2 linked regions of the Homo sapiens genome follow. The protein of the gene in region 1 interacts with the protein of each later gene in a pairwise test. Each region holds a gene or a part of one and is shown in the gene's direction. Other genes may lie near its edges.

The links. The genes of interacting proteins can lie anywhere in the genome.
Region 2: the proteins of LSM11 (region 1) and RAB19 interact in binary tests that used the Homo sapiens proteins (3 or more experiments, as listed by UniProt).

What each region holds. Positions count from the first base shown.
Region 1 is NC_000005.10:157,746,709-157,753,730, forward strand, and holds part of LSM11 (U7 snRNA-associated Sm-like protein LSm11), read left to right. Parts: intron 1-4,681; coding exon 4,682-4,821; intron 4,822-7,022. UniProt on the Homo sapiens protein: Component of the U7 snRNP complex that is involved in the histone 3'-end pre-mRNA processing. Increases U7 snRNA levels but not histone 3'-end pre-mRNA processing activity, when overexpressed. Required for cell cycle progression from G1 to S phases.
Region 2 is NC_000007.14:140,399,912-140,407,079, forward strand, and holds the start of RAB19 (ras-related protein Rab-19), read left to right. Parts: upstream 1-4,146; 5' UTR 4,147-4,306; exon of another isoform or gene 4,307-4,557; intron 4,558-7,168. UniProt on the Homo sapiens protein: The small GTPases Rab are key regulators of intracellular membrane trafficking, from the formation of transport vesicles to their fusion with membranes.

The sequences.
Region 1 (7,022 bases):
AGACCAGCCTGGCCAACGTGGTGAAACCCTGTCTCTACTAAAAATACAAAAATTAGTTGGGCATGGCAGCATCTGCCTCTAGTTCCAGCTGTTCAGGAGGATGAGGCACGAGAATCGCTTGAACCCTGTAAGTGGAAGCTGCAGTGAGCCGAGATCATAGGGACATCATAGAGACCTCTACAGAGGTGATACGAGGTCTCAAAAAAAAGTAATAATAAAAGTATAGGAGGCTGTTGCAATACTGGGAATACTAAAGAAGAAAAAAAGCATAGGAGGAAAGGTTTTTCGTCATCATTAAGCCTAAGCCATCACTGATACCAACAAAGAACTCACACACAAGCTGTACTTGCAAGTGGAATGCAATTGCTTTTCCTCCTTTTTAATATTGACATGCCTATAGAGATGGTAAGACAAGACTAAAGAGCATTATCCTCTTTTCCACATAATTCTAGTGTCTATATTTCTCCTTAGTATCGCAGCACCATACCTAGCCCACGGTGGTTCTGGTTTATAATTGTGCTTCAAGCAAGCTTTTTCTAGGTATATCTGTCACTGTGAAATGAACTGGTGTGTTCAAGCTCACGTCTTGACATTATAAAGCTGTAAGAAAAAGTGTTATCATTACTTTGTTTTAGCTACAGGTGTGTTGGTGTGCAGCCTGTGCCGGTGTGAACAAGTGTGTGTGGTCAATCCAAAATGCATATGACATGCAGGGTTTGGCTCCTAGACCATTGTCTAGGTGAATGGCTTGTCTCCAGTTCCAAATTCAGTTTTCCTGCAGGGAGCCTACACAGTCCTTTTACTCGCACACATCCTGCTGAGAAGGATTTCAAAACAAACCTGATTTATTGGGCCTCTGACGTGATACCATGATTGAAAATTTGTTTGAGTCCTGTTGTTGTAGTTTACTTTGATTGCTGAAATAATTTCCCACAATATGGTGTCTTGATGTTTTCATTTTAATAAAGTGATATTCTTTGGATAACTTTGACTTCACTTCCTGCAAATAAAGAGCAAGAAAATAGGCAAAATCAAGAACATCTGAGCCCTGTGTACAGCAGTAAAATGAACTCTCAAATTTGAACAGCATCTCTGTTACACAGAGGTTGCCAAAAGGGCATGAGTATGACTTACATAAAACCGAGAACAGCGGTACTTAGGCTTCAGAAAAGGCCAAGCTTAAAATTCAGCCTTGTCACTTTTCTCAGCTCATTGCAGCTGTTTCCAGTCAGCTGTCTCCAGTGCAACTAAGGAATAGTCTCAGATGATTTCTGCACCACACTGCTGTGTGTGTGTGTGTGTGTGTGTGTGTGTGTGTGTTTAGGCCAGTTTGACATAGCATCACAATAGGGAAGACACTGATGTGCCTTTGCCGGGTCACTGATTCAAACATTGTACTTTCAATCTGTCATGGCACCCTTCTATAGAATGGCAACTAAAACTATTTTCAGAGAAAAGAGAAAATATTTTTCCATTGCAGACTCATAAGGTGACTGTTACAGTTTGTGGTTTCATTTCTCTGGGCCCTTAATAGGTTATGGAATCTGGGGAGCTGCCTTTGCCCTAATGAGCTAATAACTTTGTATATTTGGAGATATATATGTAGATACAGTTTTGTCCTTAAATCTTTGAATAGGTAGTTGTGGAGGCTAAAGCAACTCCATCTTGAATGCCAGTCCACCATGTTGACTTCTGATTAAACCCAGTTCTGGGAAGGCCTCTAAGATTTCCAATTTATCTGTTGTTTCTTGTGTAAGAGCATGTACTTACTGTAATTCCTGTCCTTACATGAGAACAACCTTGACGTTATCTTACTTCAATTGTCCTACACATCCCTTCTGAATCACCCTTTCCCTGTAGCATATAAGCCCTGCATCTGGGGGTCATGGCACGGGGATCCACCATCTTGTTTTGCCGCCACCTGAGACGCAGACGTGGCTTCTGTTCCTACATTCCTATTAAATATTTCTTTCTAAGGAAAACAAGAGTTACTGTAAGAGGCAAGTTTTAGGTCTTTAAAGAAGGGCATGATTGAGAACAGTTATTTTAAAATCAGGCTGTGATGGTATAATTTACATGTAGCAGGAGAAGGAAGAGTGGAGCTGAAAATGACCTGGATCTGGAAGGATGTGGCAATAGAGAAGGGGATTGGAAGAGTAACTTTCTCCAAAGATAAGGCATATGCTTTTTTGTCATATTTGGTCATAGAAACCTGACTCATATCCATTTGGAGCTTGCCACAGAGACGGCTGGAAAGAGAATGTGCACTCTGATTCAGAATGGGGAGCTCATTTTTGCCTTGGCGGTTTGCTCTGATAGGTGGTGCTAGTGTCGTACTTTTGATCACACAAGGATACAAGGAGAGCAATGCTTCCTGGAATTACACCTTATTAAATCTTTGGAAGAAAAAAATTAAAGGTACACGTTTGAGAAAGACCAATTGAAAGACCTGAATTTGCCATCTATTTAATTAGAGTAAGAGACTGTTGCTAAGATACCTGCTTGCCCTTTCTATTTTTGGAGGTGTGGGAAAGAAGTAATGTCCCTGTTTTTTTCCAAGTTAGAAAAAAATAGTCTTTCCACTCTTTGTATAAACATACATCATAGGGCAGGGGGCAGTATATATGTATGTGTAGGAAAAGAAATAATGCAAGCATGTGATCAGTTTCTAAGAAATTGAGTTATTGGGACTTAGTCCTGAAATAAATCTACAAGTTAACTATCTTAACCTCATTTTATGAATGAGGAAATTTGGAACTTAAAGAAAAAGTTATTCATCAGGTTCACACAACTAGTTATAATGACCTGAAAATTGTTTACAATGCTTGAATGCTTGATTTAATATGGCCTATAACACATATACACGCGCGCGCACGCGCGCACACACACACACACACACCCACACACCCATACACACCCTTAGCTAGCAAATGTACAAAGGACTTTAAAATACTGCTAGAAGAGAGGTAAATGATGATGGTCAGACCAGAATTCTCATGGTCTTTTCCAAAGTCACTGCTTCGTGTCGCTTCCAACTCCGAGTTATTCTCACACCGTTAATCTGACATAAACTCCTGCTAGTCTGCTAAGTCATTTTCTTCTAAGAATCTTTTATTAATTTATCACAGCCATCATTTATAAGCCAATCCATGACAGAGGGATAAGGTGGCTTCAGGAGGAACCAATTTAGTTATCCAAACTGAAGTGCAGGACTGTTGTTCTCCTTTATGTCACTAGAAACAAAGCAGGAGAGATTTTTCATTTGTCTACTGTCAATGCCAAATACTCTATATATCCAGACTTCTAAGACCTGACCAAAAATAAACTTTCTACAGAATTTTGCGTTGCAAACTTGGGAAAGAGTGAGACTGTGTACGCACGAGAAAGAGAGAGAGATTGGGGGTGCGTAGTGCGTGCCTGTAGTCCCAGCTACTCAGTGGGTTGAGCTAGGGGGATCGCTTGAGCCAGGGAGGTCAAGGCTGGAGTGAGCTGTGATTGTGCCACTGCACTCCAGCCTGGGTGACAGTGAGACCCTGTCTCAGGAAAAAAGAATGTGTACGGCTTTCTTTTGGGAGGTTTTATATACCATAGCCAGCATATTGTGAGAGCTGAGTTAACATGAAATAATAAAAATAAAATTCATCTTTCCTCCCACGCTCTGAGAATCCTTCATAATAAAAGCTGAAATTTATAGTCTCAATATTCTTCCTATGAGTCATTATCCTGCTCTCTTCACATGATGCTTATTAGTAGTGTCATAGGAGCCAGATACTCAGCCAGGTGCCTTTTACACTGTCAGGGCTTGGGCCAGAACCAGTGCTTTTCCTCCCAGAAACACCAGTGAGTCCAGAAAGCTTGTGCATGGAGTAGCTTTGGTGGGGTCAAAGGCCTTTCTTTCTGACAGGATTGTACATGTTTAAGGGCAGAGTGCAGTTTGTTTCCTTTGAACATGTAAACAAGGTTTTTGTTTTTTTGGAAGACTCAAGCTGGATATGTGATTCATGAATTGTCTTAAGGCACAGAATTGAGAAGGATCTCGCTGTTAATGTATACATTTAATGTTTGCGTGCCCGTGTGTGTGTGTGTTTCTCAAGATGGAGTCTTGCTCTGTTGCCCAGGCTGGAGTGCAATGGTGCGATCTCGGCTCACTGCAACTTCCACCTCCTGGGTTCAAGCCATTCTCCTGCCTCAGCCTCCTGAGTAGCTGAGATTACAGGCATGGGCCACCATGCCTGGCTAATTTTTGTATTTTTAGTGGAGATGGGGTTTCACCATGTTGGCCAGGCTGATCTCAAACTCCTGACCTCAGGTGATCCGCCCACCTCAGCATCCCAAAGTGCTGGGATTACAGACGTGAGCCACCACGCCCGGCCAACCCCAAAAGTTAAGTGATAGTGCATGTTAAAATCAGTGACATCGTGGAATAAGAGATATACCGGTAGTGAAACATTTGGCTGATATTCATACATATGGATGATCCACATTCTGTTGGAATCTAGTCTTGTGTCAGTGTGTGTTGGCCGTACGAGCCATGTTGCCCATTGGACCTTCCTGTTCCAATAGTGAGATTGTCACTCTACCATGGGCCACATGTTGCTGGCCGAAGTTGGGTGGTCGTGGCTTAATTCTGGGAATGAGGGCAGATATTAAAACTGTCCTGACTGTTCTTCTCTTGTTTCAGTGCACGAAGGCAGCCCTCTGGGTGAACTCCATCGCTGTATCCGTGAGGGGGTGAAGGTGAATGTTCACATCCGCACTTTCAAGGGACTTCGGGGCGTCTGTACAGGCTTCCTTGTTGCATTCGACAAGTTCTGGAATATGGTAATTAAGCCTTTCTCAAGGGGCTGGAGAACCTCCTACAGATTATATCTTCTATAATATTTAAAGGACCTGAGTAACTGCATTAAGTAAAACCCAAAAAATAACTTCTTAGAAGAACTAGAATTTTTGCATACTTTTGGGCAACAACAAGAAAAGGTCTTTTTATTGCTTCCTTCTCCTTAAGGCAGTGGCTCTTAACCAAGGTAATTTTGTTCTTCCTTCACTCCCAGGAACATTCATCAATGTCTGGGGACATTTTATTGTCACCACTATAGGAGAGGGTACTACTGGCATCTAATTGGTAGAGGCCAGGGTTGCAGCTAAACAGTCTACAACACACAAGATAGTCCCTCAACAACAAAGAATTATCCAATCTGAAAAGTCCTTAGTGCCAGGGTTGAGAAACCCAGCCTTAAGGACCAATTATTTTATCGGTTTAGTAATTTTTAGTTGATTTTCTACCAACCATTCTTTCATTAATTAAGAAAAACATTTATTGACTTCCCATTTTGGCTGAACCCCATGCTAGGTGCAAAAGTTTCAGAAAGGAACTTGCACTTTACAGTACATGGGAAGGTAAATAAGGATAGAGGTGAAGCAGACATCAGTAAACAAAGCATTTTGCATGATGTCTTTTTTTTTTTTTTTTGAGACAGTGTTTTGCTCTTGTCACCCAGGCTGGAGTGCAGTGGCACAATCTCAGCTCACTGCAACCTCCGCCTCCTGAGTAGCTGGGATTACAGGCCCCTGCCACCATGCCCAGCTGATTTTTGTATTTTTAGTAGAGACAGGGTTTCACCATGTTGGCCAGGCTGGTCTTGAACTCCAGACCTCAGGTAATCCGCCTGCCTCAGCCTCCCAAAGTGCTGGGATTACAGGCATGAGCCACTGCGCCCGGCCACATGGTGGTTTTATAATGAGGGAGTGTGCCACACTTCCTAGCCTTCTAGAGGCTTACTTTTTTTCTAGACATTTGTAGGAGAGAAGGGATATGTAATAGCACAACTATAATTTGAGGTAGTTAAGAACTACTAGGCTGCACGCGGTGGTTCACACCTGTAATCCCAGCACTTTGGAAGGCCGAGGCAGGCGGATCGCCTGAGGCCAGGAGTTCAAGACCAGCCTGGCCAACATAGGGAAACCCCCATCTCTACTAAAAATACAAAATTAGCCAGACATGGTGGCACAAGCTTGTAATCCCAGCTACTCAGGAGGCTGAGGGAGGAGAATCACTTGAAGCTGGGAGGCGGAGGTTGCAGTGAGCCGAGATCATGCCACTGCACTCCAGCCTGGGTGGCAGAGCGAGACTCTGTCAAAAAAAAAAAAAAAAAAAAAAGAACCACCAGAGCTTTCTGGTGTTTCTTTTCCATATGGTCTTCTATCTCCAACTTTCCTTTTCCCTGTGCTTTATCCCCATCCACGCATCCTCCTGGATAAGAACAGTAGCTGCTAACATATATTGAGTACCTGCTATGTGCCAGGTACTATACTGAGGGCTTCATATATTATCTCAATGAATGAGTTGTGGGTACTATTACTGTTCCATTTCACAAATGAAGAAATTGATTCTAGAGAGATTGGAATGTTGGTCGCAGATCACACTGTTAGTAAGTGGAAGTGCCAAACTTTTTCCTCGGCCTAACTCCTAAAACCATGTTTTTAACCATTAGGGAATTTGAATCCTAGCATCATCACTTGGTAACTGTGTGACTGTAAGCAAGATAATTTCTCTGAGCCTCAGTTTTCTCATTTCCAAAATGCAGGGAAAAATGTTTTATTATGATCTTTTTACCTTTGAAGAATTGAAGAGAATGTGTTAGATGATAGTGGTGATTATAACAGTACTGTCAGCTTCTATTTGTAGGGTGATTTACACTTTTCAAAGGAATTTGTCTTGTACTTCTCATTTGGTCCTAACAGCTGTCCTGTCGAGGTTGCTCTCGGTGATGAGAACTCACCAGCAATTCTGTGTGTAACCCTGGTTAATCTCTGTTAATTGCTTTCATAAGACATAGAAACTGAAGCGGGTAAAGAAGCAGTAATGTTCCTCAAAGTGGGATCTAAAGCCATCCTGCATCAGAATCACCTGGGGCTTCTGGTTGAAACAAAAGGTTCCTGGGCTTCATCCCAGACCTACCAAAACAGAATCTCCAGCAGAATAGCTTTGGGTTCGTATTTTAATAAACCTCCTAGATATTCTT
Region 2 (7,168 bases), on another chromosome or scaffold:
GTAGTTTTACAAATTGGAGCAAGGCGCCCATACCCACTAATTTAGTCTCTTACCCTCATGTAGGAACTGGAAGATACAGGCACTAACTCACGTCTGAATTTCAAAAAGATGACCCCCAAGTCCTTGAGGATACATTTCTGAGTTGTGATACTGGCAAGAGGCTCATTTCGCCGTTATAAAGATTTGTGTACATTCGAAAAGGACAGAGAAAGAAATTTTGAAGGAACAGAGAGAAGGCTGAGAAGTCTCTTTATTTTCAGCAGAGGAATTAAGCCTGTTATTTTTCATTTTTATTTGCCCTTATACAGTGGTAGTTTTGTTTCTAGCCCTTATACAGTGGTAGTTTTGTCTCTAGGCATCCAAGGAGAAATATGATGTCAGGGTGAGCAAAAATAAATGAGCCAAATATGTTACTTTTATTTTTAAAAATATATTGTGAATCGTTTATTTTTCAGCCTAAAAAAGGTAGCAAATTCTGACACATACTACAACATAGACGAACCTTCAAAAACATTATGCTAAGTGAAATAAGTCAGACATAAAAGGACCAGTACAGTACAGTTCCACTTATATGAGGTAGCCAGAGTAGTGAAATTCATAGAGTCAGAAAGTAGCATGGTGGTTGCCCATGGCTGGAGGGAAGGGGAAATGAGAAATTGTTGTTTAATGGCTATGGAGTTTCCGTTTGGGATGCCAAAAAAGTCCTGGAGATGGATGGTGATGTTGGTTGCACAACAATGTATTTAATGCCATTGAATTGTACACTTAAAAACGGTTAAAATGGTAAATATATATACATAGAGTGAAATACATAGTTTTTTGTGTTATATTTACATATGGGTGTATACATATATATGTGTGTGTGTATACTTCAAGTATATAACCTGTGTCACCACCACTCAGGGCTAGAATGCCTTCTTAGCCATGTGGTGGTGTGTATCTTTAATCCCAGCTACTAGGGAGGTTGAGGTAGGAGGATCACTTCAGCCGCACCTTTGGAGGCTGCAGTGAGCTATGATCGTACCACTGTGCTCCAGCCTGGGTGACAGAGGGAGACCCAGTCTCTTAAAAAAGAAAAAACAGTGTATATATACACACACATTTATACATATGAATGCCTTCTTTCCTGTAGCCCAAGCTATGCTCTTTGTATTTATAGTGACCTTGGTGGAGAGGGTTGGGTGGTAGACAGAGGTAAGATCTCTCTCCCCTTGACTTCCAAAACCATCAGGATATTTAAATATTTGTAACATTTGTTTTCTACCTGTAGATGTTCTCCAAGTGCTCAGTGGGTCTGAGTCAGGTGACTTTTTTTTTAAACAGTAACCACCCCAGGTGCGGTGGCTCACCCCTATAATCCCAGCACTTTGGAAGGCCGAGGCAAGTGGATCACCTGAGGTCAGGAGTTCCAGACCAGCCTGGCCAACATAGTGAAACCCCATCTCTACTAAAAATACAAAAATTAGCTGGACGTGGTGGCGGGTGCCTGTAATCCCAACTACTCGGGAGGCTGAGGCAGGAGAATCGCTTGAACCCGGGAGGTGGAGGTTGCAGTGAGCCAAGATCGCACCATTGCACTCGAGCCTGAGTGACAAAAGCTAAACCTTATCTCAGGAAAAAAAAAAAAAAAGTAACCATTACCAGAAGAAAGACAACATTTGGACACTGAACTTCATGACACTGACACCTAACAGGTTTTATTTCCTGATCACACATTTGGGGCGAATCTTTACCTACACTGGATTTCCACATTGTGCTGGTGGTTCTCACCCTGCAGCAATATTTGGCAGAGTCTTTTGTTTTCTTGCTATACCTGCCAGTGTTGAGTTTATCTCACTCAGAAGAGAGTATCCTGAAAATGGATATGTAACTGGAATTTTGGGTAAGACAAATATTTTCAAATTTATCTGAAGACATCATAGAAGTAATGTTCTTGGACAGTGAATAAATTGCCCTGTATTTCAGTGCTTCTCAAACGTTGCGGACCCCAGCCTACAGTTAAAAAGACATTTCAGGCCAGGCACGGTGGCCCACGCCTGTTATCCCAGCACCTTGGGAGGCTGATGTGGGAGGATTGCTTGATCCCAGGAGTTCGAGACCAGTCTGGGTAACAAAGTGAGGCCCTGGCTCTACAAAAAAATGAAATAAATAGCTGGGCATGATGGTGCACACCTGTAGTCCCAGATATACAGGAGGCTAAGGCAGGAAGATTGCTTGAGCCCAGGAGGTTGAGGCCGCAGTGAGCCATGACGGTGCCACTGCACTTCAGCCTGGGAGACAAAGTGAGACCCTGTCTCAAAAAAAACATTTTTTTTTTACATCACCCTGTAAAATATGCATGTGTACAACTGACCCAAACATTTTGCAAAACAGTAGTCACTGTTACTACACAAGATACATTCTGAAGTTGTTTCTTAATCCCTTCTTGTGAAAATGCTGGTTGCAACCCACAAAGGTTGATTTCATGACTCATTTATAGGTCTCAGCCCACAGTTTGGAAACAGGACACCGATGTAAATATTTTATCCAACAGGGTGTCTCTGTTTCAATTTTGCTTATTGTGTCTATAATGCCATTTAACTGCCTACATATCACATCCTATGTAGTGGAGAAAATCTGGTCCCTGTGATAGACATTGGGAGGCAGTTACTGTTCTAGACTCTGGGGAAAAAATAGTAAGGAAAATTCACCTCAGCTTTATGCTTCTACTGCCAGCATCTGGGACTGATAAACTTGAGGTTTTCTGGACGTCAACCTTTGCTCTATGGTAGAATTTTTGAGGGAGTGAGGCAGACATTTTCTTTTCAGCTTTTTCTTCTCATATACCTTCAAAGTTCTTTTAGTTTTGTTTTTGCTTCCTTCTCTTTGCATCATCTCCTTTCTCTGACTCCTCACAAAGAGATATTCAGATCTACAAAACAAAGACTTAAATTACTTACAATCTGGCCAGGTACGGTGGTTTCATGCCTTGTAATCCCAGCACTTCGGGAAGCCAAGGCAGGAGGATCACTTGAGCCCAGGAGTTTCTTCTCTTTTTTTCTTTTTTTTTTTGAGACGGAGTCTCACTCTGTCACCCAGGCTGGAGTGCAGTGGCGCGACCTTGGCTCACTGCAACCTCCACCTCGCAGGCTCAAGCGATTCTCCTGCCAGAGTAGCTGGGATTATAGGCTCACCACCAGACCCGGGTAATTTTTGTATTTTTAGTAGAGATGGGGTTTTGCCATGTTGGCCAGGCTGGTCTCGAACTCCTGACCTCAGGTGATCTGCCCACCTCAGCCTCCCAAAGTGCTGGGATCACAGGCATGAGCCACCATGCCTGGCCAAACCCAGGAGTGTCAAACCACCATGGGCAACATAGGGAGATCCCAGCTCTAAAAACAATAAATAGTGGGGCATGGTGGTGTATGACTGTAGTCCCAGCTACTTGGGAGGCTGAAGTGGGAGGCTTCCTTGAGCCTGGGATGTTGTGGCTGCAGTGAGCCATAATTATGCCTCTGCACTCCAGCCTGAGCCATAGAGCAAGACCCTGTCTCTAAAAAATATGTATATATAATAAAATAAATTACTTAAGATCTATATCCTCCTTTAGTTGGTGTTATCTCAACTAACAACCCTCAGGCCAGCTGTAGTCCCAGATATTCAGGAGGCTGAGGCAGGTGGATTGCTTGAGCCCGGGAGGTTGAGGCTGCAGTGAGCCATGAATGGTGCCACTGCACTTCAGCCTGGGTGACAGAGTGAGACCTTGTCTCCAAAAAAAAAAAAAAAATTTTTTTTTTACATCACCCAGTACAATATGCACATGTACAACTGACCCAAACATTTTGCAAAACAGTCGCTGTTACTACATGAGATACATTCTGAAATTGTTTCCTAACAAGGGACACCAGGACAAATTGAGAGCAAAGGACGCAAAAGCCCACAAGACAAGGTAAAGTAGAAGAAAGGAGCAGGGGCAGTGTCGTATGGGCCAGCACTGGTTTAATTCACTGGCTGTTCCTTCCTGTGAGGGCTTTCCGCTAGGCCGGCGAAGGCTGGTGAGAAAGCCGGCTCTGCGCCCTGCCCTGTGCTGGCCGCCCTCACCTGGCGCTTTGTACCCTGAGGCAGCTCCGGACTCAGGGCAGGTGGGAGGGATTGCACTTTCCTTTCACTTTCTCAGGACGCCAAACCCGACACCTGGGGCCAGAACTACACTTCCCACCAAGCAGCGAGGCAGGAGGAAGAAGGGGGCACTGGGGGGCTGAAAAGCAAACCCAGAAGAAAGCGAAAACATTACCTGCTGACCAGCAGAGGTGAGAGAGCGAGACAGGTAAGCGACAGGTGAACCAGGAAGGCGAAGGCTGCGGGATGCCGGCGGGAGGACATCATCGGGGTGGACGCTGCCTGTGCCTCCCAGCAAGGCTTGTAGGCTCAATGAAAGGGGGCTTTAGTGGAAACCCTGAGGACTCCTGAGGGTGGGGGGAGACATGGAAGTAAAGTCTCAGCTCAAGTTACAGTGATAAGACCAAGACACCGGAAGTGGAATGGCTGTCTTTAGTTGAAAAGTCAGACAGGAAAAAAGTGGTTTGATTGTGTCTGTTGTCTGCTGGATCATCTACCCATATGTGATTTCAGAGAGGTCCAAGAGAGGTATGGGATCCTTCTTCATCGCCTTAAAGCCCTGGGTTTTTGCATGCAGATTGGACATTTGAGTGCATTTTACCTTGTGTGATGAGACAGAGTGTCCTTGTCTATGACTTTAGAGAAAACCAAAGTAAAACGGAGAGGTGAAGAAGGATGTCACAAGGCAGGGGCAATTTGCAGCACATCAAATGTAATCATTAAGTGGGATCAGGTTTCAGTTACTTTTAGAGCAATTGGATGAGGAGTCCGAACACACTCTCAGGAAGAACAGTTAAAGAGGATGGGGATATTCTCCTTGGGGGAATATTCTTGCTGCTTCAAATATCTGATGGGCTGTCATGTGGAACAGGAATGTGATGTGTCTTGGCAGAGTAAGGATAGCACGGAGCTAGACAGATGGAAACCTCATGGAGGGAGGTGTCAATCCCACAGAAGTGAGAGCTGCCCAGTGCAAAATGGAAATTTTTCAGGAGGTAGTCAGTTCCTTGTGATCAGAGATATTTAAGCATAGGTGGACATTTAAGCCAGGGATGCTGATGGTGGGAGTAAGTTTCAGGTAGGTGACTTGGTCGATTGGTGTTTTCCAAACCTGGCTCATCATCAGAATCACCTGGGGAAGAGACAGAGCAAGAGGGGAGGGGAGGGGAGGGAAGAGAGACAGAGGTTTTTGGTTTTGTGTTTTTGTTTGTTTGTTTGTTTGTTTTTTGAAACGGAGTTTCGCTCTTGTTGCCCAGGCTGGACTGCAATGGTGCGATCTCGGCTCACTGCAACCTCTGCCCTCTGGGTTCAAGCCATTCTCCTGCCTTAGCCTCCCAAGTAGCTGGGATTACAGGTGCATGCCACCACGCCCGGCTAATTTTTTGTATTTTTAGTAGAGATGGGGTTTCACCATGTTGGCCAAGCTGATCTTGAACTCCTGACCTCAAGTGATCCGCCTGCCTCAGCCTCCCAAATTGCTTGGATTACAGGTGTGAGCCACTGCCCCTGGCCTATTTCTTATTATTTTAATAGAGATGGGCGGGGAGGGGGGGCGCAGGGCTCTCATTATATTGCCTAGACTACTTTCAACCTCCTGGCGTCAAGTGATCCTTCTGCCTCGGCCTGCCAAAGTGCTAGGATTACAGGCATGAGCGACTGCGGCCTGGCGCACTAAACATATTTTAAAGTTAAAAACACAAAACACAAAACCTGGCCCAGTGCAGTTTTGAGATCATACCACTGCACTCCAGCCTCGGTGACAGAGCGAGACTCTGTCTCAAAAAAAAAAAAAAAAAAAGAATACTAAGAAATAATTTTTAAAAGAACAAGGTAAAATATGTTTAGCAAGTCTGGGATGAGCTCCAAAAATATATTTTTTCAATGATATTCCCAGATAATTCTGATAATCAGTTAGTTTGTGAAACACTGTCATTAAAAACCTTTATTTTCCAGCCGGGCATGGTGGCTCATGCCTGTAATCCCAACACTTTGGGAGGTCAAGGCGGGCAGATCACCTGAGGTCAAGAGTTCCTAACCAGCCTGGCCAACATGGCAAAACCCTGTATCGACTAAAAATACAAAAATTAGCCAGGCGTGGTGGCAGGCACCTGTAATCCCAGCTACTTGGGAGGCTGAGGCAAGAGAATCGCTTGAACCCAGGAGGCGGAGGTTGCAGTGCAGTGAGCCAAGACCACACCATTGCATTCCAGCCTGGGCAAGAAGAGTGAAACTCTGTCTCAAAAAAAAAAAAAAAAAAAAAGGAAATATATATTTTTCAATGATACTCTCAGATAATTCTGATAATCAGTTAGTTTGTGAAACACTGTCATTAGAAACCTTAATTTTCTGGCGGCGCGTGATGGCTCAGGCCTGTAATCCCAGCACTTTGGGAGACTGAGGCAGGTAAATCACTTGAGGTCAGGCATTCGAGACCAGCCTGACCAACATGGTGAAACCCCGTCTCTACTAAAAATACAAAAATTACCTGGGTGTGGTAGTGCAGGTCTATAGTCCCAGCTACTCGGGAGGCTGAGGCAGGAGAATCGTTTGAACTGGAAGGCAGAGGTTGCAGTGAGCTGAGATCATGCCATTGCACTCCAGCCTGGGCGACACAGCGAGACTCTTTGTCTCAAAAAAAAAAGAAAAAAAAAAACCTTTGGTAAAATATGCCATAACCAGCCTTTGGTAAAATATGCCATAACATTATAGCCATGGTTTTAATTTTGAATATTCTCAAAATCCTAATTTCCTGGTCAAAAAAATTAGGCTCCAAACAGAACAAAAAGGTCATGTCACTCTTCCCCAAGCTGACTTACCAATCACCTCTTATCAGTCCTCGTTGCTAGCTACCTGGATGGTCAGTAGTTTTTTGTTTTTTGGGTGTTTTTTTTTTGAGGTGGAGTTTCGCTCTTGTTGCCCAGGCTGGAGTGCAAAGGCATGATCTCGGATCACTGCAACTTCCGCCTCCCGGATTCAAGTGATTCTCTGGCCTCAGCCTCCCGAATAGCTGAGATTATAGGCATGCGCCACCACACCCAGCTAACTTTGTATTTTTAGTAGAGATGGGGTT